Homo sapiens: one gene and its partners. The protein of the gene in region 1 purifies or fractionates together with the protein of each later gene. This does not show direct contact. Each region holds a gene or a part of one and is shown in the gene's direction. Other genes may lie near its edges.

The links.
Region 2: the proteins of SPNS1 (region 1) and SUCLA2 purify together in Homo sapiens (affinity purification with mass spectrometry; one large-scale study listed by BioGRID and IntAct). This does not show direct contact.
Region 3: the proteins of SPNS1 (region 1) and JAM3 purify together in Homo sapiens (affinity purification with mass spectrometry; one large-scale study listed by BioGRID and IntAct). This does not show direct contact.
Region 4: the proteins of SPNS1 (region 1) and POLD3 purify together in Homo sapiens (tandem affinity purification; one large-scale study listed by IntAct). This does not show direct contact.
Region 5: the proteins of SPNS1 (region 1) and SDK2 purify together in Homo sapiens (affinity purification with mass spectrometry; one large-scale study listed by BioGRID and IntAct). This does not show direct contact.
Region 6: the proteins of SPNS1 (region 1) and NPTN fractionate together in Homo sapiens (co-fractionation; one large-scale study listed by BioGRID). This does not show direct contact.
Region 7: the proteins of SPNS1 (region 1) and AASS purify together in Homo sapiens (affinity purification with mass spectrometry; one large-scale study listed by BioGRID and IntAct). This does not show direct contact.

Annotation. Positions count from the first base shown.
Region 1 is NC_000016.10:28,973,062-28,977,718, forward strand, and holds the start of SPNS1 (protein spinster homolog 1), read left to right. Parts: upstream 1-1,716; 5' UTR 1,717-1,718; coding exon of another isoform or gene 1,719-1,802; 5' UTR 1,803-2,039; coding exon of another isoform or gene 2,040-2,090; coding exon 2,091-2,331; intron 2,332-2,430; coding exon 2,431-2,496; intron 2,497-4,657. UniProt on the Homo sapiens protein: Plays a critical role in the phospholipid salvage pathway from lysosomes to the cytosol.
Region 2 is NC_000013.11:47,987,630-47,991,780, reverse strand, and holds part of SUCLA2 (succinate--CoA ligase [ADP-forming] subunit beta, mitochondrial precursor), read left to right. Parts: intron 1-2,799; coding exon 2,800-2,899; intron 2,900-3,077; coding exon 3,078-3,240; intron 3,241-4,151. UniProt on the Homo sapiens protein: ATP-specific succinyl-CoA synthetase functions in the citric acid cycle (TCA), coupling the hydrolysis of succinyl-CoA to the synthesis of ATP and thus represents the only step of substrate-level phosphorylation in the TCA.
Region 3 is NC_000011.10:134,071,949-134,076,099, forward strand, and holds part of JAM3 (junctional adhesion molecule C isoform 1 precursor), read left to right. Parts: intron 1-4,151. UniProt on the Homo sapiens protein: Junctional adhesion protein that mediates heterotypic cell-cell interactions with its cognate receptor JAM2 to regulate different cellular processes. Plays a role in homing and mobilization of hematopoietic stem and progenitor cells within the bone marrow.
Region 4 is NC_000011.10:74,595,270-74,599,420, forward strand, and holds part of POLD3 (DNA polymerase delta subunit 3), read left to right. Parts: intron 1-4,151. UniProt on the Homo sapiens protein: Accessory component of both the DNA polymerase delta complex and the DNA polymerase zeta complex.
Region 5 is NC_000017.11:73,637,602-73,641,752, reverse strand, and holds part of SDK2 (protein sidekick-2 precursor), read left to right. Parts: intron 1-4,151.
Region 6 is NC_000015.10:73,626,457-73,630,607, reverse strand, and holds part of NPTN (neuroplastin isoform b precursor), read left to right. Parts: intron 1-4,151. UniProt on the Homo sapiens protein: Probable homophilic and heterophilic cell adhesion molecule involved in long term potentiation at hippocampal excitatory synapses through activation of p38MAPK. May also regulate neurite outgrowth by activating the FGFR1 signaling pathway.
Region 7 is NC_000007.14:122,133,861-122,138,011, reverse strand, and holds part of AASS (alpha-aminoadipic semialdehyde synthase, mitochondrial), read left to right. Parts: intron 1-4,151. UniProt on the Homo sapiens protein: Bifunctional enzyme that catalyzes the first two steps in lysine degradation.

The DNA of each region.
Region 1 (4,657 bases):
TAGTCCTAGCATTTTGGGAGGATGAGGTGGGAGGATTGCTTGAGTTCAGGAGTTCCAGACTAGCCTGGACAACATAGCGATAACTCATCTCTACAAATATAAAAATTAAAATGACACTGGGCATGGTGGCTCACCCCTGTAATCCCAGCACGGTGGGAGGCTGAGGCGGGCAGATCACTTGAGGTCAGGAGTTCAAGACCAGCCTGGCCAACCTGCTGAAAGCCCATCTCTACCAAAAATACAAAAAATTAGCCGGGTGTGGTGGCACGTGCCTGTTATCCCAGCTACTTGGGAGGCTGAGGCACAAGAATCGCTTGGACCCCGGAAGTGGAGGTTGCAGTGAGCCGAGATCCCGCCACTACACTCCAGCTCCAGCCTGGGTGACAGAGCAAGCGTCTGTCTCCAAAAAAAGAAAGAAAGAAAAAAAAAAAGAGTTCTTTACATGGATACAAGTCCTTTGGCAGATAGATGCTTTGTAAATATTTTCATTCAACCTGTGGCTTGCCTTTTCACTTCAGAGGTGCAATTTACAATGCGTATCACTCTCTAGATAAGCTCCACGAGGGAAGGGAGTAAGTCTGCCTTTCCCTGAAACCTGGTAAAATGCCAGGCACATACATGTTCAATAATATCTTGTTGAGGGAATTAAATGCCTGCAACCTGAAGTTCCTGTCCGCCAGGGGAAACCAAGCTTAAGGTTCTGAAACACGAGGCACCTAATATGGGGGGGGGGGGGGGGTTAAAGCCAATTATGGGTATTCGGACTCGAAATAGTTTCTAACAAGGCGTTTTGGGGTTGGGGGATGCTCTCCCCACGAGATTCCAGGATTTCAGTAGAGGGCCTTTAAGGGCTGGTTGAAAGATGGGTCTTGAAGCTGTATTTGCACAGAACTATACTAATTTTACTTAGAGTGCTTTATTAGATGTAGCTTGGAGATTATAGGGTGCCACTAAAGAACCACTCCCAAGTTATCCCTTTGACCCTAGTCCTGCAGCTGGGAGTCTCCTTAGGCTAGGAGCTCCTGCCTGCCCTACAAAAGCCCACCGGAGGGCGCAAGGGCTCCAATCCCGATTGGAGTGAGGAAAAATATGCTCCAGGAGCGGCGGGTGGAGACGCTTCCTTTAATAGGTATTTAAGTGTCCACGGTGAAGGCTCAGGAGTTTACAAGGCTAGCAGGGTTGGGGAATCTCAACAAAGGGCGGGGCGTTGCTCAAGCTCCATCCGTCCGTCCGTCCATCCCTCCGTCCCTCCAATCCTCCATCCATCGCGCTGCTCAAGCTCCATCCATCCATTTATCCATCCATCCATCCATCCTTTATTGAGAGTAAAAAGCCGCCAACCAGACCCTGGGAGGAAGACAGGATGGTTCCCGAGAACTAGGGCTGCTCCTTGGCTTTTAGAGGTATCTACTACTTCCAAAACCTTTTGAGACCCCATTATCCCGTTTGATGAAGATGGAGTCTGCCACGTGGGGGTTCCAGATAAGACAGCTGAGATTCGGAAGGGCAGGCGACTCCACCTAGTCACGGGGACGCTCTTTTTGACGCTCCAGGGACCGCAGGGTCTGGGAAAGTTCCTGGTTACTCCGGCGACCGGCCGGCCGTCACATGACATGTGAGCCCGGGCGGAACGCCCAAGAGGCTTCCGTAGTCGGGTGGCAGGTCACGTGTCGAAGGCTTGCCCGCGGGGACCCCTTCCACCCTGGCTCCCGCGTCACATGACCGGCTTTAAGCAACATGGCGGCTGCCGTGGTGCAGCGCCCGGGCTGAGCGACAGCAAGTGCAGCGGGCTCCTACCCCGGGTGAGGGGTGGCCTCCGCGTGGGATCGTGCCCTCTTCAGCCCGCTCCTGTCCCCGACATCACGTGTATTCCGCACGTCCCCTCCGCGCTGTGTGTCTACTGAGACGGGGAGGCGTGACAGGGCCCGGGTCCCTTCTCAGTGGTGCTCTGTGCTTCAGGGCAAGCTCCCCGTCTCCGGGCGCACTTCCCTCGCCTGTGTTCGGTCCATCCTCCTTTCTCCAGCCTCCTCCCCTCGCAGGTGGGATCGTCGGTGGGACCGGAGCGCGGGCGGGCGCGGCCCCCCGGGACCATGGCCGGGTCCGACACCGCGCCCTTCCTCAGCCAGGCGGATGACCCGGACGACGGGCCAGTGCCTGGCACCCCGGGGTTGCCAGGGTCCACGGGGAACCCGAAGTCCGAGGAGCCCGAGGTCCCGGACCAGGAGGGGCTGCAGCGCATCACCGGCCTGTCTCCCGGCCGTTCGGCTCTCATAGTGGCGGTGCTGTGCTACATCAATCTCCTGAACTACATGGACCGCTTCACCGTGGCTGGTAGGGACTCACTTCTGGGAGGAAGATAGTCTAGGAGAGGGGAGCCAGGGTCCCGAGGGTGGCGCTGCTTTGCCGGACCATCCTGAATTTTCTCCTCAGGCGTCCTTCCCGACATCGAGCAGTTCTTCAACATCGGGGACAGTAGCTCTGGGCTCATCCAGACCGGTGAGTGGGGACCACTCCTGGTCACACAGCCGCTCCTCCTTCTGTTCTGTCTCAAGTGGGGCCACGCGCTGGCCTGTCTAGGGGCTCATTAATGGAGGTTTTGTGGCCAGTTAGGGGAGGTGATGGCCCTGATGTTGCTCGGGGGTCAGCGGGACACCACATTTAAAGAGGGAGTCAGTTTAGTATAACTAAGTATAACTTCACCCAGGTGAAGACAGACCTGGGTTTAAATCTCAGCTCTTCCACTTATTGTGTGATGGTAGGCAAGGCACTCAACCTCTCTAAGCCTCATTTTCCTTGTCTATAAGATGGAACAAGTAATAACACGAATCATCTCTTAGGACTGATGTGAAGATTAACTAAAAGATTGTCTGTGAAGGGCCTAGTGCAGTGTTTGGCACATGGTAGACACCCAGTAAATAATGGCAGGAGGGTTGGGTGTGGTGACTCACGCCTGTAGTCCCAGCACTTTGGGAGGCCAAGATGAGTGGATCACTTGAAGTTAGGAGTTCAAGACCAGCCTGGTCAACATGACGAAACCCCATCTGTACTAAAAATACAAAAATTAGCCAGGCATGGTAGCGAGCGCCTGTAATCCCAGGTACTTGGGAGGCTGAGGCATGAGAGTTACTTGAACCCGGGAGGCAGAGGTTGCAGTGAGCCGAGATCGCACCACTGCACTCCAGCCTGGGTGACAGAGCGAGACTCCATCTCATAAATAAATAAATAAGTAAAGGCAGGAGAGGGTGTCTGGAATGGGGAGAGGTGTGTTTTACTTGTTCACAACTTTGGGACTTGTGGGAGAGGCAAAGCTAGAGCCAAGCCCTTTTTCTTCCTTCCATCCTTCATTCATTTCTCAACCATTTCTGAGTACTCATTGTGTGCCAGGCCTGGAGGAAGTGATGATTACACCTGTAGGACTTTGCGAAGAACTTTTATGCCCCTTGTCTTCTAATCCTTCTATCAGTCAAAAATAGGTGTTACTGTTCCTATTTTATAGAGGAAGTAGGTAGTGATATCTACAGCTTATAAAGAAACTGAGGCTTGGAGAAGAGTTAAGACTTGCCCAGGGTCACACCACCAGTTGGAGGCGGAACAGGAATTTGAAACCAGGTCTTGCAGTGTTCTTTTCTCTACTCCAGGCCAATGAGGAACTGGAGGTATTTGAGGTGAAGTCTGGAGCAATGAGAATGGGATCATAGGGCAAGGTCTTCAAACCTCTGAAGAGTTGTTGAGTTAGAGCAGCAGCTCTTTCTAGGCAGCCGGATTTATTCACTCTCTTCACATGCTTATTGAGCACCTGTTTTGCACTAGGCTGTGTGTTAAGTAAGTGAAAGAAACACAGTCATGGCCAATACAGGCAAGGACCTTGCCTTGGGAGCTGATAGTACGCTATGCATGAGGCAGCAACAGCCAGTAAAACGCTAAACTAAAGTGGGACAGTTTTCCCATAGGGATAAGTGTTATGTAACAGAAAACAGTCCAGGCGCTGTGGCTCACACCTGTAATCCCAGCACTTTGGGAGGCCGAGGCGGGTGGATCACGAGATCAGGAGATTGAGACCATCCTGGCTAACATGGTGAAACCCCATCTCTACTAAAAATACAAAAATTAGCTGGGCGTGGTGGCACGCCCCTGTAGTCCCAGCTGCTTGGGAGGCTGAGGCAGAATTGCTTGAACCTGGGAGGCGGAGGTTGCAGTGAGCTGAGATCGCGCCACAGCACTCCAACCTGACAACAGAGCGAGACTTCGTTTAAAAAAAAAAAAAAAAAAAAAGAGAAAAAAGTAAATGTGAGAGTCAGGTACTGGATGTGTGCTCACCTGGGCAGCATGCTTCACCCTTGGCCCTGGGCAAGTATCTGAGCTGGAACCTGAAGGAACTATGCTCTGTGAAGTTTCAGGGGGAGAGGAGAGAATGTCCTTGATAGAGGAGGCAGTAGGTGCCTAAACCCCTAGTGGTATTGGCCTTGACAATTGGGCCATTGGGATGCAGACAGAGGAAGGGAAAAAGGCTGGCCATGAGTGTGGAGAGGTAGGCAGGGCCTAGATTGGACAGGGGCATTGTGAGCCATGGTATGCATGGAGTTTGGAGCTTGTTTTGGCTAGGTGGAAGGAATTGACAAGTAGTGGGACCATCCATTATACAATGGGAAATCTGGAA
Region 2 (4,151 bases), on another chromosome or scaffold:
CCCAGTTTTTCCCATTGGGAGTTTTCGTAAGAGCAGTGAAGAAATCTAGATTTATAAGAATTCTGTTCATATTTTTAAATGTTCCTTTTTTTCAACATTCAGCAAAATATTATGTGCTAGGAACTCTCCCAGACGCTTGTTAACATCTATGAATACAACAAAGATTCTGCCCTCCTGGGCCTCTTTTCTGATGGGGAAGCAAAACAACAAATGATATATGTAAGAGAATTACATATGTACGAAGATGATGAATTCTATGGCGGAAAGAAGTGTAGTAGGTAAGGGGGATTGGTCACAGGTGGGCAGGTTAGTAGGGTAAGCTTCATGGGCAACATGAGATTTAAAGAGAAACTTGAAGGATCGGGGGCTTTTCCCACATGGACACCTGGTGAAGAGTATTCTAGGCAGAGGGTGCATTAGAGCCAAGTCCTGAAGGCAGGAACATGCCCAGGAATAGTGAGGGGATTAGTGCAGTTGGAACAGAGTGAGCAACCAGGAGGGCCTAGGAGATAAAAAGTGTAGAGGGTATTATAAGGTCTTCTAGGCCATTGTAAGCACTTTGGCATTTAACTGAGTGAGACTGGCATTCAGTGCAAGGTTTTAAGTAGAGGAATGGTGTGCCTGCTTTGGCTGCTGCCTTGAGAATATTCTGTGGGGGACAAAGGTCATATAGTTAAGAGATAGTGGTGGTTGGGATCAGAGTCTAAACTGCAGGTGATGAGGAATGGTGAAGATTCTGGATAAATTTGAAGATAGAACCAGTATGATTTCCTGGCTGAATGGAAGTGGGGTTTGAGAAAGACAAGTTTTTTAAACACTCTCTTGGCTGACTACGCATAGGGTCATCATCTGGTTTAAATAGCATGTATTTCTGGTGAAGGCTTACATCAGTAATTTTCTAAATGTTCTTTTAAAATAATTGTTAATGTGTAAACTTTAGGTTGTTTTTGTTTGGTTTCAAACTCCATTTCCTACCTCATTGATTTGGTTGGTTCATCTGATTAGGTGGGAGCTTCCTCTCATTCTGCTTGATAAATGCATCGTGGAGTGACATCCTAGTTGTAGAGGACTCTACTTCAGTCTGTTCAAATCCATGTTTATGGAGTAGTTGTTATATCCCAGAGACTTCCTTGTGCTTGGGATATAATGAATACAGTGAGACCTTTAGCCCTGATCTCAAAGGTTATTTTGCCATAATGTATAGTTGGTGCCACCCTGCCAGTGTGGGCAAAATGCTATGAGAGGCAAAATGAGGAGGCTCTGAATTCTGCCTGTCTGGTACACAGAGAATGCCTTTCTAAGAGGTATTACTCTTTTTTTTTAACTGATACATAATATTTTTGTGGTACATGTTATATTTTGTTACATGCATAGAGTGTGTAATGATCAATTCAGGGCATTTAGGATACCCATCACCCAGAGCATTTACTCTTTTGAGACAGCCTTGCTCTGTCCTCCAGGCTGGAGTGCAATGGCACAATCTTGGCCCATTGCAACCTCCGCCTCCCGGATTCAAGTGATTCTTGTGCCTCAACCTCCCAAGTAGCTGGGATTACAGACATGTACCACCATGCCTGGCTAATTTTTGTATTTTTAATAGAGATGAGATTTCACCATATTGGCTAGTCTGGTCTCGAACTCCTGGCCTCATGTGACCCGCCTGCTTCAGCCTCTCAAAGGGCTGGGATTACAGGAGTGAGCCACCGCACCGGGCCCATTTACTCTTGATCATGAATGATGAGTACTATCTAGGCTAAACAGCCAGTTTGCTGGTTTTCCACAGCAAATTAGAAAGGAGAGGAAAAGGGATAAATAGTAATCAGTCTACCTGTTAAAGAAGAAAAATTCAGTCCATTTATTTAAAAATATGCATAAGCTTTGCAAGCATAGAATTCTGAAATCTTTTGATACAGATACCTTAATAACTCCTGATAGTACTACTCATGCAGTACTGCTCAATAATGTATTTTAATAGAACTTTCTCTTAGTGGGACAGTATAAATCAGTATCAATACTGGTAATGGTAATATCCCCCAAATCATGACATATTCCTGCTATAGCGATATAACTCAGATGTTCTCAGGACAGCAAGTTTACATGTGAATAGAGAGGGAGGGACGTGTTAGGAAGACATGAAATTCAATTTTGTACTTTTGATACTTTCCAGAGTTCTAGATGACACTTTCCAAAGTGTCAAGAAATGGTTAAATTATTTTCAGTTTACTTTTAAGAAATGGTTTAATGTGGCCAGGTGCGGTGGCTCATGCCTGTAATCCCAGCACTGGCTCACGCCTGTAATCCCAGCACTTTGGGAGGCCGAGGTGGGCAGATCATGAGGTCAGGAGATCGAGACCATCCTGGCTAACATGGTGAAACCCTGTCTCTACTAAAAATACAAAAAAATTAGCCAGGCATGGTGGCGGGCGCCTGTAGTCCCAGCTACTCGGGAGGCTGAGGCAGGAGAATGGCGTGAACCTGGGAGGCGGAGCTTACAGTGAGCCGAGATCGCGCCACTGCACTCCAGCCTGGGCGACAGAGCGAGACTCTGTTTCAAAAAAAAAAAAAAAGAAATGGTTTAATGTAAGTGACGAATTTTGAAAATTGTGGGCCTTTTAGACAGTGATTATTTTAGTGTTCTAATCTAGAAAATCTACATAAAGAGAATGCCTTATTTTTGGACATTGTGAATAAATTAGACTTGATTTAATAACACCTGTCAATATGTATGTTAAATAACAAAATACTATGTCTGGCATGCTGCTCCATGCTTCATATTTAATAGAAGTGTTTTTCTTCTAGGTTCAAAAGATGTCGTGATAAAGGCACAGGTTTTAGCTGGTGGTAGAGGAAAAGGAACATTTGAAAGTGGCCTCAAAGGAGGAGTGAAGATAGTTTTCTCGTAAGTCACATTTTTTAAGGAAAAATCATCCTTGTTAAAGACTGATTAAAGATTACTTATTGAATTGATGAAAATACTGAAATTTAAATATTAGATGAGATAAAATTTTGGCTATTATGTGGATTTGCTTTTTCTCAACTGGAGGAAAGAAAAATTTGAGTTCTTTTTCTTATTTTAGTCCAGAAGAAGCAAAAGCTGTTTCTTCACAAATGATTGGGAAAAAATTGTTTACCAAGCAAACGGGAGAAAAGGGCAGAATATGCAATCAAGTATTGGTCTGTGAGCGAAAATATCCCAGGAGAGAATACTACTTTGCAATAACAATGGAAAGGTCATTTCAAGTGAGTAATTGTAGACATGATACATACGGGATAAATTTATGACATTCAATTTCAAAAGTCCATTATTGTTTCTATTTATGTGGGAAAGATTTTAAAAGTACAAATTATAATCTGTTTGTATGTCATGAGCATGATATTTATGTCATTTAAAAAACAGCTTCTTTAATGCCGTAAAATTTGATATATAATATCATGATCTTAAAATTATAGGAAAAATTCTGCTGTAATAAATTTCATGGGATTCTCAAATTGTTAATTCACTAAAAGCAGCTTAAATCATCTCTGGATCATCTCCAGATTGAGAAAATTATATCTAGCATAGTAAAATATTCTAATGAAAGAGAAAGTTGCTGAACCCACTAGAAGAATGTGTATCCATTGCCTCATCTTCTGTTTTCTCAACTTCTTGGGTTTGTTTTTTTTTTTTTAATAGTTTCGGGTTTGTTTCACTATATGATTCAATATTTGGTAAATTGAGGGATGACATTAAGTAGCAAACAATATGGTTTTAAGGAGTATTACATTAGCACAGCTCTCCTCTCTTTATGGAACCTAAAATGTTGAACATAAAGCTTCTGGTGAAGAGAAAATCCCTTTATAGACCTGGTGTTTGGAAGAGAGCATTGATAATCATTTTATACTAGAATTATCTGTTTTTCGAGGGTATTAGGTTTTACAAGCTGAATCTGTGTGTTAACTAGCTTGTTTTTTGAAGCAACTGGGTATATATTTGAAAGCCCCAGTACGGATTTCATGTAGAACATTAATTGTGTAGAATTTAGAGTAACAAAAATTTTAAGAGTCATGAAAATAATTTTCTTATGTAGAACAACTTTTTTAAAAATAACAACTTTCTGTATTGTGATTTTTCTTATTTACAATTAAATCTATTAATGTTTGAATGATATGTC
Region 3 (4,151 bases), on another chromosome or scaffold:
AATGGATAAGTACTAGAGATACTTAATCATAAGTAATTGCAGTATTACATTCAGGCAGAATTATCCACACAACCCCTAAGCTCCATGGAACTTGTTCTTAAACTCCATGGGGTGGGTTTAAATCAGTTCTTTTGAAAGCAACCAGACTTTCCTCAAGTATAAGATGGCCACATAATGTAACAGACGCAGCTATGGATTTAGTACATTCGACTAGCAGCTGTTAGAGATGTGGTATTAGCAAATTCCTTCTCCATAAATTCTTTGAATTTTTTAAAAGCACAAATGTAGTAAAAGAAAGGAAAATATGTGTGAATGAAGTTAGGATGTATGGAGTCTGCTGAAGAATACCCTAGTGGTGAAGTTGGATTTTTTTTTTTTTTTGAGACTGAGTTTCTGATGCAGTGGCATGAGCTCAGCTCACTGCAAAACTCACTGCAAAACTCCGCCTCCCAGGTTAAAGCCATTCTCCTGCCTCAGCCTCCCGAGTAGCTGAGATTACAGATGCGTGCCACCTTGCCTGACTAATTTTTTTATTGTTTTTAGTAGACATGGGGTTTCACCATGTTGGCCAGGCTGGTCTTGAACTCCTGACCTCAAGTGACCTGCCCGCCTTGGCCTACCAAAGTGCTGAGATTACAGGCGTGAGCCACCACGCCCAGCTGGATTCTCTTTTAAGATATGTTTATAGTTGGCCGGGTACAGTGGCTCACGCCAGCACTTTGGGAAGCCGAGGTGGGCGGATCACAAGATCAGGAGATCAAGAACATCTTGGCCAACATGATGAAGCCCTGTCTCTACTAAAAATACAAAAATTAGCCGGGCGTGCTGGTGCTTGCCTGTAGTCCCAGCTACTCTGGAGGCTGAGGCAGGAGAATCGCTTGAACCCGGGAGGTGGAGGTTGCAGTGAGCTGAGATTGCGCCACTGCACTCTTGCCTGGGGTACAAGAGTGAAACTCCGTCTTGGGGGAAAAAAAAAGATGTTTATAGTCAGGTGGTGTGAATGTTATGCTGTCAAAGTTGAATGCAAATTTCAGATCTTTGCATGTACTCTCAGAATTCTAGCAGTATATGCAAATAGCTTCACTGGAGTGTAAAGCGATCCCGAAAGAAAGTTTTGGTAAGCACATTCTTTTACACCTAGTTTAGCAAGGACAGTATCCACTGTGGTACTCTATATGGAGAGCTAAAGCCTTAATTGACTGTCTCTCTGCTTCTTGGCATGGCACACAGAAAGCTTCCTGAGAGTTAGCCCTTGTTTCTGATGTCCCAGGAATGCTGTAGTGTTTTGTGTTGGTGTGTTTCTTTTGGTTTTAAGTAGTATTTGTTATGTGTTATATATTACATTTCCCATGAGTAGTTAATACATACAGCAGAGGTTTCAGTGCTGCTTGTATAAAGACATCAAACTATTTAATAGAGTTAGGACTATATGAACATTTTTTCTTACATTATCTTTCATTTGCAGTTTCCCAAGGTTTCTATGGTTCAGCCTTCTTCCTGAAAATTATTGCCAAAATCAAATTCTGCCATAGTCATGCTATCTGCTATGTTTGACAACCTCAGCCCACAGTGATCCTTCCTATCTCTAAATAAGCTTAGATCATAGTCTCTAGTTCAGTTTAGTACAACACCCATTTATTGAGTATCTATGACGTGTCAGGCACTGTTCTGTGTGCTAGGGTTGCAAAATGGGTAAAACATCGCCAGTCCTTAAAGAGCCAGGGTAATTGACTCCGATTTACATTGGGCTTTAGTTGTTAGGTGTCAGTGCATTGTATTTTCTCAATGATAATAAACATTTTGTTGGTAACAGAGGCTGAATTTAATTTTTTTGTATCTTTCCAGAGGTGATTCTAGTAAATATTCAGTTTATCTCACTTTGTCACTTGAAAGTGAGTTAACATTTCTTAAACACTCTCTTTGTGTCGAGGCATTTTTAAAAAAATGTCTTATTTCTAGTGGCCCTAGGAACTTCTGGAAAAGTGTCAGTTTGTACTACAGTAGTTATTCTGGAAGAAAGAGAATGGTAATAATTTATTGACTTGGTTTAATTTCAGAATCTTTCTGCCATCTGCTTTTGTGCAGTTACAAGGTTAAGAAGGAGAAAAAGATGGAGAAATGCTTATGATATCATTTAAGTGACACAAGCTGCAGGTATACTAGTATATACTGTATGATTACGATTACACAAAACATCTATGCTTAGGGGAAAAAACAGGATGAGAATGAACCAGACTGTTGATAGGGGCTGTTTATGAGTGGAAGTGTTACAGCAAATTGTTTTCTGCTTTTCTTTGTTTTTGTTTTCCTGGTTGATTCTTGTATTCCTTTGTCTGTTTTCCAAATGTTCTTTGATGAGGATATTTTTTGTGTAATGAAAAAAGTTGCATCTTGGTTTGGCTTCCAGTAGATACAATAGTGGAATTTTAAATTTGGCACTAGTAATGGGAAAATATAATTTGTTTGTTTAATGTGATAGCATGTGGATTGTGCCTTTTTCTAGCTTCTTAATATCAGCCACATTGGATGAAGGAGTGGCTGACTGGAAGTTCAGTTGCTTGATAATGTATTGTTTGTGACTCATTTGAGAGATTAGTTGCCACTGACTTTTGGGTGGGGGAGTCAGCTGTGGTGTCCTCAGCAAATGGTTAGCTGGAAAACTGAGAGCTGCCGAGATTACCGGCCTCCCCCCTTCTTTTTGAACACACTGACAAAACGATCTGAGTAATGGCCTTTGTTCACCTGTTCAAAGCGAGCCAAAATTTATTGAGCACCTACTCTGTGGCAGCCCCTGGAAGATCTCTGTTTTCTTCCTCTTGAGTGATAAAAATACAGGGTGAAATTGACTTCTGTTGAAACTAGACTCTGAAAGATGTTTCCCGAAGCACTCTGTCAGCTGATGTGCCCCATCACTTCTTCCTGCCCAACATGGACTTCCCTGTTGGATGTCTTTCTCTAAGGAAAATATTTAATGTCTTTAGAATGAAGTGCAGCTGCCTGGAAGCTTAGAGACAATGCAACAAATCCAAAGACAGCTGCTTTTTTTTTTTTTTTTTTTGGCAGGGGTGGGGCATGTTTTTCCTTTAAAGCATCTCTGTCAGGGTACTGAAACTTAATCAGCCAATCCATATTTATTTGGTAGTCTCCATTTTCATGGCAGTAAAGCATTCCATGGGCAAAGCAGGAGAACTTAAGATAATGTCTTCCCTTTACCAGAGGGAACATATAGTTTAGTCAAATAACAGAGCAGCATTTGGGTAAATATTCTGTGGGTTTAGAAGTGAGAGCACTTACTCTCTCTGGGCTGACCTGGTAGAGGAGAATTTCAAAAAGGAGCTGGACTTGTACAGATAATTGACTGACTTAAGTATAGATTTGGGAGGGACAGCGGTGTGGATGGGAAAGTGGAGGAAATAATGTGGGCAAAGGCATGGACTTGGGAATGCACATGTTTTGTTTTGGGATGAGTGAGTTATAATGATTAATAACACCTGCCAATTACTGAAAACTATGTGATAAGCATTGTGCTTATTGCTCTATCTGGGGTCTTAGTGAGCTTGGGCTTCTATGACAGAATACCACAAACAGGGTGGCATAAATAAGACATTTGTTTCACGGGCTCTGGAGCCTCACCTGGGTAATTTTTTGAACATTTTTTTGTAGAAACAAGGTCTTACTATGTTCCCCAGTCTGATCTTGAACTCCTGAGTTTAAGGGATCCTACTGCCTTAGCCTCCCAAAGTGCTGAGATTATGGGCATACACCACCATGCCCTCCCTGAATTTCTTTTCAGTTATTCTACTTGTTATATGTTGTGGTTTGTATACCTGTGAGTTTCTTTCTTTCTTGAGAATTCTCAGTTCTTATCCATTCAAATATCACCTAGCTTGTACCTGCTTAACTTTTTCTTTCTGTGACTGCAATTAAACATGTTTAGTCATTCTGTCCTTCAATACTGTTAACCTCCTTTGTCATTTTTTCATGTTCTTGTCTCTCTGTGCTATTCTGGGTTCTTTATTCATTTTTGTTTTACAGCTAACTTTTTCTGCTTCCAGCTGTATCTAACTTATTATTGATAACCAATCAATACACAGTTTTTCCACCAATTATATTATTCATTTCTAAAATTTTCTTGGTTCTTTTTATAATCA
Region 4 (4,151 bases), on another chromosome or scaffold:
GGTGTACATCACCACACCTGGCAAAAACTTTTTATTATGTCTTATTTTAACCATCCTAGTGGATGTGAAGTGGTATCTCATAAATTATGTTGATTGGCATTTTCCTAATGACTAATGTTGCTGAATATCTTTTCATATGCTGCTTGGCCATATCTTTGGAGAAATAGATATTCAAAATTATGCCCATTTTTGTCATTGGGTATTTTTGGTTGTTGTTGAGTTTTAAGAGTTCTTTATATATTCTGAATACAAGACCCTGATTGAAAAATTATTTGCAAAAATTTTCTCCCATTCTGTGGATTGTCTTTGTACTTTCTTGATGGTGTGCTTTGAAGCACAGACATTTTTTGTTGTTGTTGTTGTTTGAGACAGGATGTCACTCTGTTGCCCAAGCTGGAGTGCAGTGGTGTGATCTCAGCCCACTGCAGCCTTGACTTCCCTGGGCTCAGGTGATTTTCCCACCTCAGCCTCCCGAGTAGCCGGGACTACAGGTGCGTGCCACCACACTCAGCTAATTTTTAAATTTTTTGTAGAGATGGAGTCCCGCCATGTTTCCCATGCTGGTCCCAGGCTGGTCTTGAATTCCCAGGCTCAAGCCCCTGCCTTGGCCTCCCAAAGTGCTGGGATTACAGACATAAGCCACCATGCCTGGCCCATGGAAGTTTTTATTGCTGATGAAGTCCAATTTATTTATTTTTCCTTTTGTTGCTTATGCTTTTTTAAGTTTAAATTTTAAAATGATTAAATTTTTTTTAATCTTATTTTTTTTTTTTTTTTAGTAGAGATGAGATCTTGCTATGTTGCCCAGGCTGGTCTCAAACTCCTGACCTCAAGTGATCCTCCCACCTTGGCCTCCCAAAATGCTGGGATTACAGATACAAGCCACTGTGCCCGGCCTAAGAAGATTTTTTTTTTTCTTTTTTTTTTTTTTGAGGCAGAAGCCTTGCTCTGTCGCCCAGGCTGGAGTCCAACGGCGTGATCTCGGCTCACTGCAACCTCCGCCTCCCTGGTTCAAGCTATTCTACTGCCTCAACCTCCGAGGTAGCTGGGACTACAGGCATGTGCCACCATACCCGGCTAATTTTATTGTATTTTTAGTAGAGTTGGGGTTTCACCATGCTGGCCAGGCTGGTCTCGAACTCCTGACCTCAAGTGATCTGCCCGCCTCGGCCTTCTAAAGTGCTGGGATTACAGATGTGAGCCATCGTGCCAAGCCAAGATTTTTTAAATTGAGAAATAAAGTTGTATGTATTTATTGTGTACAACATTATGTTTTGAAGTATATATACACTGTGGAGTAGTTAAATCTAGCTAATAAATGTATTACATCACACAGTTATTTTGGTGGTGAAAACATTTAATGTCTACCATCTTTTCATTTTTCAAGAATATATCATCACTAACTGTAGTCACCATGCTATACAGTAGAGCTCTTGAACTTATTCCTGTCTAACTGTAATTATGTATCCTTTAGACCCACATCTCCCCATTCCCCCTCCCCTAACCACTTCAGCCTATGGAAAGAAAATTCTGCTTTCCACTTCCGTGAGATCACCTTTTACAGATTCCACAAATGAGTGAGATCATGTAGTATTTGTCTGTGTCTGGCTTATTTCAGTTAACATAGTCTCTTCCAGGTTCATCCATTTTGTTGCAAATGATAGGATTTTATTCATTTTTATGGCTGAATAGTATTCCATTGTGTATATACACTATATTTCCTTTATCCATTAATGGACATTTATTGATTCCATATCTTGGCTGTTGTAAATAGTGCTGCAATAAACATGTGAGTGCAAATATCTCTGACATACTGATTTCATTTCCTTTGGATGTATATCCGTAGTGGGACTGCTGGATCATACAGTAGCTCTATTTTTGATATTTTGAGGAACCTCCATACCGTTTTACATAATGGCTGTATTAATTTACATTCCCACCAACAATGTATAAGCATTCTGTTTTCTCCATACCCTTGTTGTGTTTTCTTTTTGATGTGTTGCTTGTGCTTCTGACATAATATCTAAGAAGGCTTTGCCTAACCCAGGGTTATGAAGATTTACTCCTGTGCTTTTTTCTAAGATTTTTTAGTTTTTGCACTTATATTTAATTCTGTAATCCACTTAGAGTTTAAAAAAATCATGGTTATCACTATGTTTAAGTTTTCTACAGATCGTGTGCTTGTTAGCATCATTATTATTATTGTTTTGAGACAGGGTTTCACCCTGTTGCCCAGATGGAAATGCAGTGGCGCAATTTTGGCTCACTGCAACTTCAGCCTCCCAGGCTCAAGTGATTCTCCCTCCTCAGCCTCCCGACTAGCTGGAACTACAGGCGCATGCCACCACACTTGGTTACTTTTTGTATTTTTTGTAGAGACGGGGTTTTGCTGTGTTGTGCAGGCTGGTCTCGAACTCCCAGGCTGAAGCCATCCTCCTGCCTTGTCCTCCAAAGTGCTGGGATTGCAGGCATAAGCCACTGCACCTGGCCATGTACTTGTTAACATTAGAAATGCTTCAGTCGGGTGGCTGTGGTGGCTCAGTTGTATTAGTCCCAACACTTGAGGAGGCTGAGGTAGGAGGATTGCTTGAGCCCAGGAGTTCAAGACAAGCCTGGGCAACATAGTGAGACCCACATCTTTATAAAAAGTTTTTTTAAAACATGAGCCTGGTGTGGTGGCATGCACCTGCAGTCTTAGCTACTCAGAAGGCTGAGGCAGGAGAATTGTCTGAGCCCGGGAGTTCAAGGCTGCAGTGAGCTATGATCACACCTGGGTGACAGAGCAAGAACCTATCTCTAAAAGAGAAAGAGAGGAGAGAGAAAAAAGGGAGGAAAGAAAGAAAAAGAAAAAAATGCTTTAGTTCCTACAGTAAGACTATACTAAAGCTTTCAGATTAGGTGTTAGTTCAAGCTAATTTTTAAATGAATCACTGAAATGTATAAATATTGACTATATCTTCTAGGAATCACTTGGAGTTGATTTTTTGTGTATGGTGTAAGGAAAGGGTCCAGCATCATTTTTTTGCACATGGGTATACGGTTATCCCAGCATTTTATAATTCATATTATTGTCTTGGCATTTTCTTGCTAATTATATGTCTTTCCCCACTAGAATATAAACTCTATGAAGGCAGGAAACTTGTCAGGTTCATCACTGTTCTGATTACTATTGCTGTGTCAGAAATCACCCCAAAATGTAGTGCCTGGAAACATCATTTTATTATGCGCATAGATTCTTTTGCTTTGGAATTTGGATAGGGCACAGTGGGAATGGCTTATGTCTGTTCCATGATGTCTGGCATCCCCGCTGGAAAGTCTCAATAACTGGAACCTGGTCATCTCTAGGCATCTTTATGCACATGTCTGGCTGTTGATTCTGGCCATCTGTTGGGCCTTTAGCTGGGGCAGTGGACTAGAGTGCTTGCATGTGGTCTATCTGTATGGCCTGGGCTTTCTCACAGCCTGGTGTCTCCAGGTAGTCGGACTTCTTACATAGAAGCTCAGGGCTCCAAAAGCTTGTGTTCCAGCACAATGTAGAGCCAATTGCCTTTTCTGACTAGCCTCAGAAGTCAAGCAGTGAATAACTGGTCATACCAGATTCAAGAAGTGGGCTCTACTTCTCAATGAGAGAATGTAGAAGAGCATATGGAATGGAAGATGCTGTCTCAGCCATCTTTGGAAAATATAACATGCCACAATTATTCTGTCTTCAGTGTCAGGCACATAATGAATGCCAATACATACTGAATGAATACCAAGCACTATGGTTTATGTTTGTTTTGAGATAGAGTCTCACTGTATCACCCAGGCTGGAGTGCAGTAGTTCAAACATGGCTTCCTTTAGCCATGACCTCCTAGGCTTAAGGGATACTCCCACCTCAGTCTCCTGAGAGTAGCTGGGACCACAGGTACATGCCACCATGCTAGCTGATTTTTTTATTTCGTAGAGTTGGGATCTTGCTGTGTTGACCAGGCTGGTCTTGAACGTCTGGACTCAAGCAGTCCTCCTGCCTCAGCCTCCCAAAGTGCTGAGATTATAGGCATGAGCCACCATGCTCGGCCTCACTATAGTATTTTCACAAACATTTCTCTCAAGTAATTTTTTTTTTTTTTTTTGACGGAGTCTCGCTCTGTTGCCTAGGCCGGAGTGC
Region 5 (4,151 bases), on another chromosome or scaffold:
CTGAAGCCACTAGCACTGTCATTTCTGAGCCCACAAGCCTGCTTCTCCAGGCATGGCACAGAACGAGGGACGAAACAATTGTTCCTCCCTTGAGACAAACTTCACATCGACCACTGTCACCAGATTTTATCTGAGCCTAGCCTGGTTGGTTTTTTTTGGGGATGGGGGGTGGGTGCTGGACCTGAGCGACATCACCTGGGTATACTGAAAGCTAACATTTGACCATTGGCCGTATGCCCGATGGGTCACATGATGCAAACTCATTTCCCAAGCAAAGTGCAGTGAGGTTGTAGAAAGAGCATTGGCTTTGGCAGCAGAAAGAACGGGCTCTCATGATCTGGCTTTGCCGCTTCGCTGAAGAGAGGCCTTCTGCAAGGCTCTTAGCCACTAAGAGCCTCAGTTTCCTCATCTGTACACTGGCAATAATAGCTCTTGCCTTGTAGAATTGCTAGGAGAATTCAAGATATTCCAGGGGCAGGGCCCCAGCCAGTGCCTGGCACATAGAAGGTACTTAATACATGGCAATTATTATTCTTGTTATGACGGTTTTAACATTAAGCTAGAAGTCCATGAAGAATGGTACCCTGCCACCCACCAATAAGACCTTGAATTCTTTTTCCTTACCCAGGAGGTTTCTTTAAATTCCTTCCATGGCCACATCACTGTGTCTCAAAGAGTGGCCCTCAAGCACTTAGCTCCCAGGGAGTTGTAGCAATGCAGATTCTTGGGCTCCGCTCCCAGACACTGATTGGAAAGGTCTGGGTGAGCCTGGAAGTCTTTTAACTAGAGTCTCGAGAGATTTCCCATGTGCTTGGAAGCTTGATTACTGCTGGAGGTCATCCTGGCCAGCCTGAGAGGTTGGGAGAAGGGCAGGAGCAGCCGAGCCAGCTGCTCCAGAAGTTTCTTTCAAGAGAATCATGCCTGGGGGGAGAACAGAAGGAAGGGAATCTGAGCCGAGAGAACAAGGCAGTGGGGACAACCCTGAAAGAGGACTGGAACCCCCAGCTCTAGAGGCTCCTGAAAGGCTCCAAAGGGAGAAAGTTTAGTGCTGGGAGCTAATCACAATAAAAGCCAACAGTACACAAGGGAGCGGGATGAAAGTTTAATTACATGGTGTGGCTAAGCTGTAATTATTAATTACTGACAGCAAAAAATAACTTATTGATCAGGGCCTTTCGCTAATTACCAGGAGGCCGAGTGTCGTGCTTGCCTGGGGCTCAGCTGTCAAAAGCCCCACTCGAGAGTGGAATGGGGGTGTCCCTGCTCTCCCATGCCCCTCTTTCCCTCACCCTTTGTACCCCTTGGCTTCCGCGGGGGAGTCCGGAACATTCTGGCAGTGGTTAGATGAGGGATACAGCTTGGTGCTTCCACTGGCTGCAGAAAATGGCCCCTGCCTGGGAGGAACAGAGTCAGGACCCCCACCCAGAGGCTACATCCCGCTGGCAGCCTGACACCTGCCTCGGAAATCCCACCCTCGACCCCCCCACACACACACCCCACCCCCGCTTCATGCATTTGTTCGGCAAATATTTATCGACTGCCTCTTCCTCGTGTCCTCTACTGGAAGGCCGGCATAGGGGCCAGGAACCTTGTTCTACAAGGGAAAGGAGGCTGGGAAGGAGGCCAAATTCTTTACAGCGATCCTCTGTTTAAACAGCGCCTGAATGGCTGACTTTAAAATGAAGTGTTAACCTGCATATTGGTCCACATTTGACTTTGTACCACAGGACGCAGTCGGGCTGTAAGCTAACAAGGAGGGGAGAATGGGCTTATCTTCTGTCCTAAGGACTAATGGGAATCATTGCATTTGACTTGAAAGACACACGAAAAGTCATCTAGGACCGTCGTCTGCCCACAAGGCCATCTGGTCTCTGCTTGCATACCCTTGATGATGGAGGACTCACTACTGCTCAACACCAGCTGGCTGTTAGCTATGTTTTATGCTGATGAAGAAATTGTCCCCTTATAGCTGGTTTTCCTAGGATCTGGCTGTGGTTGAAGGGGTCCTCTGATTGGCTGGAACCCTCTCCCTGTCCCTACGGACTCCCAGCCCCTCTGGGAGGCAGGAGGCTGAGTTGGAATTGATGTCGGGTGTTAGTGTGCGCCCTGCGGGGTTTCTACCCCGCTCCCCCTGGAGCATGTTGCCACAGACAGCCCTGGAGCTGCCTAAAGCGGTGGGAATTAGTCATCATAATTTGGGGCCTTGGGATGCCAATAGCAACAAATGGGCCAGCAGCAACTGGCGGCTGCAGCCCACTGCCTGTAATGGAAAGGAAAACAAGCTGGTTGCCGAGACACCCCGGGTGCCCCCTCCCCTAGGTGTCCCACCCCTGCTGTCCATGTGCTGGGCAGGAGGCAGAGCCAGTGAGCAGCGTTGAGCAGGGATGCTCAGCATCCCCGGGGGAAGGGAGAGAGGGGACTGCAGGGCTTGTCCCCTCAGACTCCCTGGGCCTGGTGCCTGGACCAAAAAGCCTCTTGCTGAGCCCAGGGAGCCCTGGGGAGACCCTTCTCCTGCAGACGTGGTGAATGGCTCCCAGCGTGGCTTCTGCCCCTTTGAATCCTGCCTCCATCACTGGGCGATGCTGAGCTGAGCCAGTTTTCTCATCTGTAAAATGAGTAAAGTTAAAAATAGTTGTGTCTACCAGCCAGGCACAGTGGCTCACGCCTGTAATCCCAGCACTTTGGGAGGCCGAGGCCGGCAGATCACTTGAGGTCAGGAGTTCGAGACCAGCCTGGCCAACGTGGGGAAACCCCATCTCTATTAAAAATGAAAAAATTAGCCAGGCGTGGTAGTGGGAGCCTATAGTCCAAACTACTTGGGAGACTGAGGCAGGAGAATCTCTTGAACCTGGGAGGCGGAGGTGGCAGTGAGCTGAGATCGTGCCACTGTACTCCAGCCTACACAACAGAGCGAGACCCTGTCTCATTAAAAAAAAAAAAAAAAAAGACTGTTATCTACCTTTTAGAGTTGTCTTGGATAATCAAATGAGATTGTCCAGATCACTTTGAAAATGCCCTTTGTAAATGTTAAGTTCTTATAATGTGTCCATTACAGTCCAGGAGGGTGTCCTGATCACTGCCCCTCTACTCCCCAGACATGAACCTCCCCTCCCACCTCATCTCCTCACTCCCCCTGCATTCACTCCTGTCCCCACACTGACTGCCTGTTGTTCCTGGAATTTACCAGGCCTCCAACCTGGCACTTGAAGTTCCTGCCTTTCCATCAGTGGTGCCCACACCACCCAGATGTCTACAAAGTTCACCCTTGTTTCCTCCAGGACTTCCTCCTAATATGTCTTATCCATCTCGGAGCACCCTATAACGTGGCATCTTCCAGCACCCACTCCCTCGCTCTCCATCATTTTCTCCATTGCACTCAGCTCCAGCTGACATATATTGACTTGTTTGTTTATTATTGGTGTCTCTGGAGGGCAGGGGCTTTGTTTCATTCACTGGTATATTTCTAGCCACTAGGGCAGTGCCTGGCACGTAGGAGGAGTCAGCATAATATGAAGACTGAATGAATGAATGAATGCTTACTGGAGGCATACAGCCCACGGTCATCTGGCCCCTCCCAGCTCTCCAGCTTCCTGCCAGGCCTCTCGCCCCATCTCCAGAGCTGATTGACTTGTGAAATGCCTCTCGTCTCTGTACATCCAGCACACCCCATGCCATGTAGCCCTCAGCGCACTGAGCAGCCAGGTACCTCAAGAGTGGGGGCCCCGCCCTCCAGCAGCTCCCGCAGATGCATCCATGGAATGGGGTAGTGTTGCCATTGAGACAGGAGTCCCTGCTCAGATTTTCTGGTCATTTTCCCAGCTCTTCCTGATTCTGGCCCGACAGATGAATCTGCCTCTTAGCAGGCCTGGCATCTGGGTTGGGCAGCCCCTGGGTCTCTGCTGAAGCCCCATCAGCTGAACTCCAACTTTATGATGTGAAGGAAATTGAGAGGAGGGGTAGAAGGTTTAGGGGGTAATGCCATTCATACATGGATGTACCATTTGAAATACACAAGGTCCTTGATTAATGCTCCAGAGGAAAAGGGAGAGGAAGATCTTGCCTCAGCACTTATATTCCCCTCCAGGCGCGGTGGCTCATGCCTGTAATCCCAGCACTTTGGGAGGCCGAGGCAGGCAGGCTGAGGTCAGGAG
Region 6 (4,151 bases), on another chromosome or scaffold:
TCCTAAAATGAAGAATTTGGCCTGTATGACTCTCAAGGTCTCTTGAAGCTCCAGTGAGTTTCTGACCCATTGTTGTGGACATTCAGGGCTTTCATTCAGATGGATTTTGTTTCTCATCCAAGAATTTAAACTTGTAAGACCAATTCCAAGTAAAATCCTTATTTGTTGACTTCTATATGTATCATCAAAATGGTAGTTTAAAGAGGAACTTGTTCTAAAAAGTAACCTTATAAGACATTCAAAAGCATTAGACTGCAATTGAGTGAGTGTAAACAAAGCAGTATAATGTGATGATCAAGAGTGCAGGCTTTGGACGGTGACAGACTCAGGTTTGAGTTCCAGCTGTCAGTAGCTGAGTGATCTTGAGTAATGCAAACTTCAGTTTCATCAGTTCATCATCTGTAAAGTGGAGATTACAATCATGTCCATTCCCTAGGGATGATGTGAGGATTAAATGAGATAATGACCGCTTAGATTTCAGCCTGAGTCTCAGTACATGTTAGCTATTACTACTATCCTTTAAAAAGGAGCATTATTTTTTATTTATTTTTCTTCATGTGTATATTGAAAACTTGATTGTTAATGCTGCTGTCATGGTAAATAGGCCATTTGAAGGCCCCACATAGAGATTTGTGCTTTTGCTTATGTAACTTTCTCAGAAAAGTGACCAGCTGCACTGTGTCTGCAATTGCCAATTCTGGTGAGGAAGTTAATATTTTTATTTGAGTTTCTGGGAGAGACTTTATGGCTTTTTTTTTTCTTTTTTTTCTGTGAACCAAATCTTTCAAGTGGGCCAGGTATCACTTTCTCATAGAGTATTATTGTTGTGAATAAGAGAAATAGAGTGTGGTACCCGGCACACAGTGGGAGTGTTATAGATGTTAGCTGAATTAATGAATGTGGAGTGGTGTGTAAAAACGTAATATATTCATATGGAAAATATGACATCACAAAATTAACACTGTTCAATGGAGGAAAATAAGGAATCTAATGAATCTTATTTTTAACGACCTAAATTTTAGAAACCATTTTGTTTGGGTGATACTAGATAGTTGTGAACATTGTGCTTTGTAATAATGCCAGTATTTGCATTAGATGATTCATGGATCTTTTTCTTTTCTGTCAAGGGCTGTTTGCTTCAGTGGTTTAGCAATTTTCTCTCACTGAGTACATTTTTAGAGGTGTATTTGCTAATTGATTGCGTGTTTCCTCTTTGAACTGAAATGAGCAACAGAAGACACATCTTATCTATGGCAGCTGTGGCACAAATGACATGCCGAATGTCAAGCAAAAAATTTTGAAATAATCCAAATAAGATTTGACCAGAAGAAATAGTTTGCCTTGACATAAAGCCCTTCCTAAGGAGATCACAGGCTTTCAGTCTCTCAGGCTACTGGCTAAAATGTCACTACTGATATAATGCAGCACCCAGGCATGAGAAATTGGTTCGGTCTGGGAGGATAGGCCATGTTACTACATCAGGACCCATTCCCTGGGTTTGTTTTACAAGGTTACTGGATCCAAATTAGAAAGAGATACAGATGGGTTTTTGTGTTGCCAGACGCAGTAGAGCTTAACTTGTGAATATACCAAGATTTAAAACCACAAAAGGAAATAAAACCCCTTAGATGTGAGGTTGGAATTCATTACAGGTCTGACTTCGCTTGATTAATACAGATCCTTATGAGAAATTAGACTGTTTTAAGGGAATCCCATTGTTTTTTCTCATTAATACAGATTTGATGTGAAACAGTTTCTTTTGTGGAATATGCCTTTAGACATTAATAAAAAGCAACATTATATTATCTTTATTTTAACTTTAAAATAAAGTTTAAATAAAAATAATTATTTAAATTAAAAAAAGATTTAATTGGGCCTTGAAAGATGACCAAATGTAATTAGAAAAGTGCTCTGTCAGTTTGAACATTGTTTTTCATTAGTCTGAGGTACTTTTTAAAAGTAAGATGTTTTGTGTGTAAACTCTGAAACTTGCTGGGTCTGTGTAAAGGTTTTTTACAACGATTCGGGAAGGAGATAAAGTGCTAATATCTATTAAAATGAAGTATGTAGAGAAACAGTGAGTGACCATGTTGGATACCATACAAGAGATGTTCAACAAAAGTTTGAATAAAATTATGCAGAGTAGTTTTGGAAAAGTGAATTTTATGAAAATCGTTCTGATGTATTCTATTCAATTTACTGTTTGCAGTGAGAGTACAATCTGGACAGGATCAGAAGTAGAGAATGAAGTTGTAAGAGAAAGGGAAAGACAGAAGAAAGGCTGCAGTAGTACAAGGAGAAAAGCAGGATGCAAGAATGAGGAATGAATCTTTGTTTGAGGAGCATCCGGAAAAATATAAGCTGTCAGAAAGAGTAAATAGACCAGGGACCTCTAAAGTAAATTCACACATCAAAGTTAAAATAATGTTGGAGAATCACCTCCTGTGAAAAATTGGCTTAGCTTTCAGTATGCCTCTTTAAACAAAACATTATCATTTTATACAAATTTTTAAAATGTTGTTCATAATATGGAGTTTAATTTTAAGCACCTTAGATAATGCATTTGTAAGCTTGTTTGTGAAATTTTTATGGATTTTTTTTTTCAAAATTCCTAATTTTAGTTGGTAAGGATTAACTTCGGGAAGACAGGAAACCCCTCCAGTAAAATTAATTGGTTATAAATGGTTACATATTTTAGGCTTATATACATAACAAAACTTCTTACTGAATTTAAAAGTGATCTTGTGTAAAAACATTATTCTAGTGATATTGATGTCTAAATTTAAAAGAGTGAATACACAAGTAAAATATATCTGCTTTTTAAGGATCTATTCAGTTTAGGAAGGAGAGTCAAAATTTGTATTTAATTTCAATTTATTATATTGTCTGAAACTGAAAGTAGGCCTAACTTTTGTTTGCTTTTGTGTATGTACAAAGGCAAACATTTATCAATCAACTCTTATTAATTTGAGATTATTTTGACCTGATTGCTCAGAACTTTTGTCTATCTGTATAGAAATGGGGTTTTCTAAATATTTAAAGAATTTCCTACGTATGTAAATTTACTTGCACACAGTAAGTTAGGGGAGACATTTAATATTCCTCAGATACCTGCTGTTTTCTTGTTGTGTTTCTTGTTTTTCAAATAAATAAACTGAGTGTTATCTGTTCATTAAAATAGAATGTAGTCAGCTCGAGGGAAACATTTTGTATTGAGTTTCTTGTACTAAAAAGCACTAAATGGTATTCTCTTGCATTTCTGAAACAATTATGGAATGTTTTAAGACTAGCCTTCCTACCAAATAATCTTAACTACTGGAGCTTTATGATATACTTTATGGTATTTTCCAGAAATATGTCAATTTTTTTTTAAAGATGGAGTCTTGCTCTGTTGCCCAGGCTGGAGTGCAGTGGCATGATCTCAGCTCACTGCAACCTCCACCTTCTGGGTTCAAGCAATTCTCCCTGCCTCAGCTTCCTGAGTAGCTGGGATTACAGGCGCCAGCCACCATACTCAGCTAATTTTTGGATTTTTAGTAGAAATGGAGTTTCGCCATGTTGGCCAGGCTGATCTCGAACTCCTGACCTTAGGTGATCTGCCCACCTCGGCCTCCCAAAGTGCTGTGATTACAGGTGTGAGCCACTGTGCCCGGCTGAAATATGCCAATTTGGATATCCTTCTCTTGCCTTATTAAAAATCATCGGTCACCCAGGTATTACTTCAAATTTACTAGACAGTGAAATATAAATGAGATGGTATGAAATCACTCTGAAAGTATTAGGGTTGGATATATTATGTAAGTTTCTATAATTAGAAAGCATTAAGTCCCAAATCGTACCAATAGTTTTAATCATATCTAAATGGATACTCACATACTAAATGTGATTAAATATAAAATGCATAACGAAATGTCACATCCTTTCCTGATAGAATACTAATAAGGCATAGTATTTCATGTGCAGGAAGATACAGGAAAACACACAAGTAAGAGTTTGTTTTGCATATATAAATTGTTATGCCTTTGAGATTCTTTTCTTCCTGATGGTAGGATTTGGAAACCATTGGACTAGATGATGTCTAAATTTCCTTTCAGTTCTAAAAATTACTAAATATCTTGCCCTTATAGCTTAGATACTGTCTCCAATAGGTT
Region 7 (4,151 bases), on another chromosome or scaffold:
TCTTTCTCTATTTTCCTCCTCTTTGTTCTTTCTAGCTCTTTTTTTCCCCCTCTCTGCCTCCTGCTTTTCTACATCCTCCTTGCTTGTGTTACAAGCTGTTATCAGCACCCGACATTGTCGGGTAACCTCACTAGAGCTGGTGGTGAGTAAACCCTGATCTTCCCTCCTTCCTTCATTGAAGGCATTCCAGAAATATACATTGAATTTACTTCCTGATATTCTTGAAAAATACCACAAAATCCAGGACAGAAAAAGCTAAAGCAGCCTCCGTTGGCATTTCCATGAAATACTAGACACCTGCAGTGCAATTCAGAAATTCTCACTATTTCCTATTTCTTGAAGACCTTAGAAGCAAATGAACTGTGGATCTTGAAAGTTCTATGCTGAGACCAAGTTTTAAGGTTCAAGCAGTAACTAGCAGTTATACTATAATCAAACCATTTTTTTTCTAAGCACCCAGAAATCTAGAATTTATCTTGGCAGGTACTCAGGAATGATTTTCAGTATAAAGCAGGAAAAGGGGTCAAGAGAGGCACGGCATGCTACGGGGAGAACTGTTAATTCACTGTGACTGTTGAAGGCAAAGCCATATGGATCTGATTTCTTTCTGAAACAAGAGTTGGCTGGAGTTAACAGCATGTGTTGGATCTATATGGTGTGAATCTGTAGGCTTTGGCAAAGAAGAGAAAATTCCAGGTGTTAAACATTAAACTAGGAATCCTGCTTCTGCTTAAAAGCAACAGATCCTATATGATTCCAGTTCAGTTTCTTCATCTATAAAATGGGGATATGTATCTACTTAATAAGATTTTTGCAAGGAGGAAATAAGATGATATCCATAAAGTGCTCAGCATAGAGCTTGGCATGTGATGCTTAATCAATGGTAACTACTGTTACATTTGTTTAAATAATGAAAGTTACAGAAATTATTATTTAAGCCTTCCATGCAAAAAGTGAAAGTGAAAGTAGCTTCCCAAATAAACTGAAGCTCAGTCCCAGGCACTTCTGTCTTTTTCCCTAGTCTTCCAAGATAGTTGGCCTTTGCAAGTATATGTGTGTATGTTACAAGTGACTGTCTGTATTTGTGTCTGTGTGTGTGTCTACTGCTTTCCCGCCCTATCCCAGACAAAGAAGGTGGTGGGAGAAGGAGCAGGGATTATTACTGAGTGAGGGATGAGTGAGGTTAACATTCAAGCTTGGGCTAGAGGGGAGGGATTAAATTATCTCCACATGTTCCTCCTGATGGAGTCAAGAATTTCAACTCATAATAAAAGTTACAGGGGTATGTAGTCACCTGTGAATTCATGAAACACAGCCCCTGCTGGGAAGATGGGATGGTTTCTGGACATTTGTGTATGTTCAAAGGAATCACTATCTTTGGAATTGGTTTTATTAGAAACTGAGGGATTCAGGTTCTAGTTTTTCTTTTGGCTTCGAGAAGACTGAATGTTATGGGTTTGGGATTGAGTTTAATGCAATCTATTTTAAAAAACAGAAGATATGAATAAACAAAAAATAGATGCAGTATATAACAGTCGTTTACTGAAATGTTGATAATCTATTTTGCATGCATATTTTGCCCTGAATAAAAGCCTAAACTCCTAATCATCAGCAGTTTCTCTTGCTGTGTGCAGCTTTTTTTCTTCTTGGCCATCTTCCTAAAGCCTTCTTAGCTGGACTCTTCGCTGTTTGGTCTGTTGTCTGATTCTGTTGTAAAGTGTCCTATAAATTTACTGTCTAGGTAGCAAGTAGTTGTTTGCCCCCAGGAAATGTACTTGTATGCTTAATTGTTTGGTCAAGCCTTCCCCATCCATCAAGCTGGTGCTCTTCCAAGATTGCAGTCTGATGTAAAATAAATGTGTTTCATGCAAGCTTTTCTATATGTTGTTAGCGGTGATGGGTAGAAAATTTCTGGAAGGTATAAAAATCATTGAATCCTTATATTTTGCTGCCAAGTTTACATGGAAAACTAAGTTTTATCATTCAAATGATCCAGCAAATCATCATCTGAAATGACATTTGGCTACAAAATTGAAGTTGGATAGAATCCAATTGAAGTTGGGTAGAATACTGTTAAGCCTGGATATTTATGCTTTAAAAATTTACATAAGATTTATTCTGCATAGGAATAAATGAACCTGTATATAAAAATTAGGAGCATCTGGGTGAAAATAAAATGTTTACTAGTGTCACTTTAATTTCTTTAATTTGGTTTAAAGTATTATTTCCACCGTATTCTACGCTTCCTCCAGCTGAGGGAAAAAATAACTACTTTTAGTAGATGATATCTTTCAATCATTCTCTCCTTCATATGCAGCCCTGGTTCTGGGACTAGGGGGACAAGACACTTCTTGTACCAAGAGAATGCTGCTTTGAGTAGAGTTTATTCATGAGAATATACCTTGCCTGCCACATTGAGAGAAGCCCGTTACATTCATCATAGTAAGCCTTTAGTAACTATTTCTTGATTGACTGAATGAGTGGAATTACACAATCTTCTCACTTGAATAGCAGTTGGAAAACTGGTTGAGGCAGGTCGGGGTTTAATACAACAGCAGACGGCCATGTATGGAGAGAAAACCCAGGAAGAGGAACTGGCATGTTTAGAGCAACAAAGGTGAACAGTGAAGGTGAGCTGGACTCTAGGAAGCAGAGTGATTTAACTCTGCTTCTTAATCTTCTAACACCTCTGGTTAAAGAATAGGTTTGTTTGGTCGATTGGTTTTCTTTTTTTTTTTTTAATACTTTAAGTTCTAGGGTACATGTGCACGACGTGCAGGTTTGTTACAGATGTATACATGTGCCATGTTGGTGTGCTGCACCCGTTAACTCGTCATTTACATTAGGTGTATCTCCTAATGCTATCCCTCACCCCTCCCCGCACCCCATGACAGGCCCCAGTGTGTGATGTTCCCCACCCTGTGTCCAAGTGTTCCCATTGTTCAATTCCCACCTGTGAGTGAGAACATAAGGTGTTTGGTGTTCTGTCCTTGTGATAGTTTGCTCAGAATGATGGTTTCCAGCTTCATCCATGTCCCTACAAAGGACATGAACTCATCCTTTTTTATGGCTGCATAGTATTCCATGGTGTATATGTGCCACATTTTCTTAATCCAGTCTATCACTGATGGACATTTGGGTTGGTTCCAAGTCTTTGCTATTGTGAATAGTGCCACAATAAATATACATGTGCATGTGTCTTTATAGCAGCATGATTTCTAATCCTTTGGGTATATACCAGTAATGAGATGGCTGGGTCAAATGGTATTTCTAGTTCTAGATCCTTGAGGAATCGCCACATTGTCTTCCACAATGGTTGAACTAGTTTACACAGGTTGATTGGTTTTCTTAAATTTCCAATCTGTTGAGGACCAATACTTTTGTAAAATCCGGTAACAATAAATTACTAGAAAAAATGATCTTGTGGCTTGACATGGTGGATCACCCCTGTAATCCCAGTAATTTGTTATAAATTAAAAAAAAGAACTTAGCCAGGTGGGTGGTTGTGCACCTGTAGTCCTAGCTACTAGGGAGGCTGAGGCTGGAGGATCACTTGAGCCCAGACTGCAGTAAGCAATGATCTCACCACTGCATTTTAGCATTGACAGAGTGAGACTTCATGTCTAAAAATAAATAAATAAATATGATCATGTGATATTAAGGCTTCTAAATGCTTACTTTCTATTTATGTACACATCTAATTGTGAACCAGTTTTTTTGTTTTTTGTTTTTTGTTTTAAAAAAACAGTTCAGTGCAGTTCACTGACTGACACTAGGGCACACTGAGAAACACTTGTTTTGGGAATGGTCAGAGATGAACTGGAAAGAGGTTGGCACTAAATTGTGAAGAATCTTGTATACCATTATAAGGATTTCAAACTTTACGCCATCAAAATTTAGACCAATCTGAAAGTCTTGCTCTTTATTATTTTCCTGGATTTGCATTGTAGATTAATTTGTTTAAAACTTTTGTGCCGAATAGATGTTTGATAAAATGTGTATTTAAAAAGCTATTTTAGCTTAGCAGTTATTGGATGGTGTCACACACGTTGCTCTATACTTTTTAAAATTTTGCAGTTAAATAATCTTGTTTTTGAAAACTTGGCTTTAAAGGAACACTTGACATCCCAGTTTTCCCTTCCCTCTTCTCT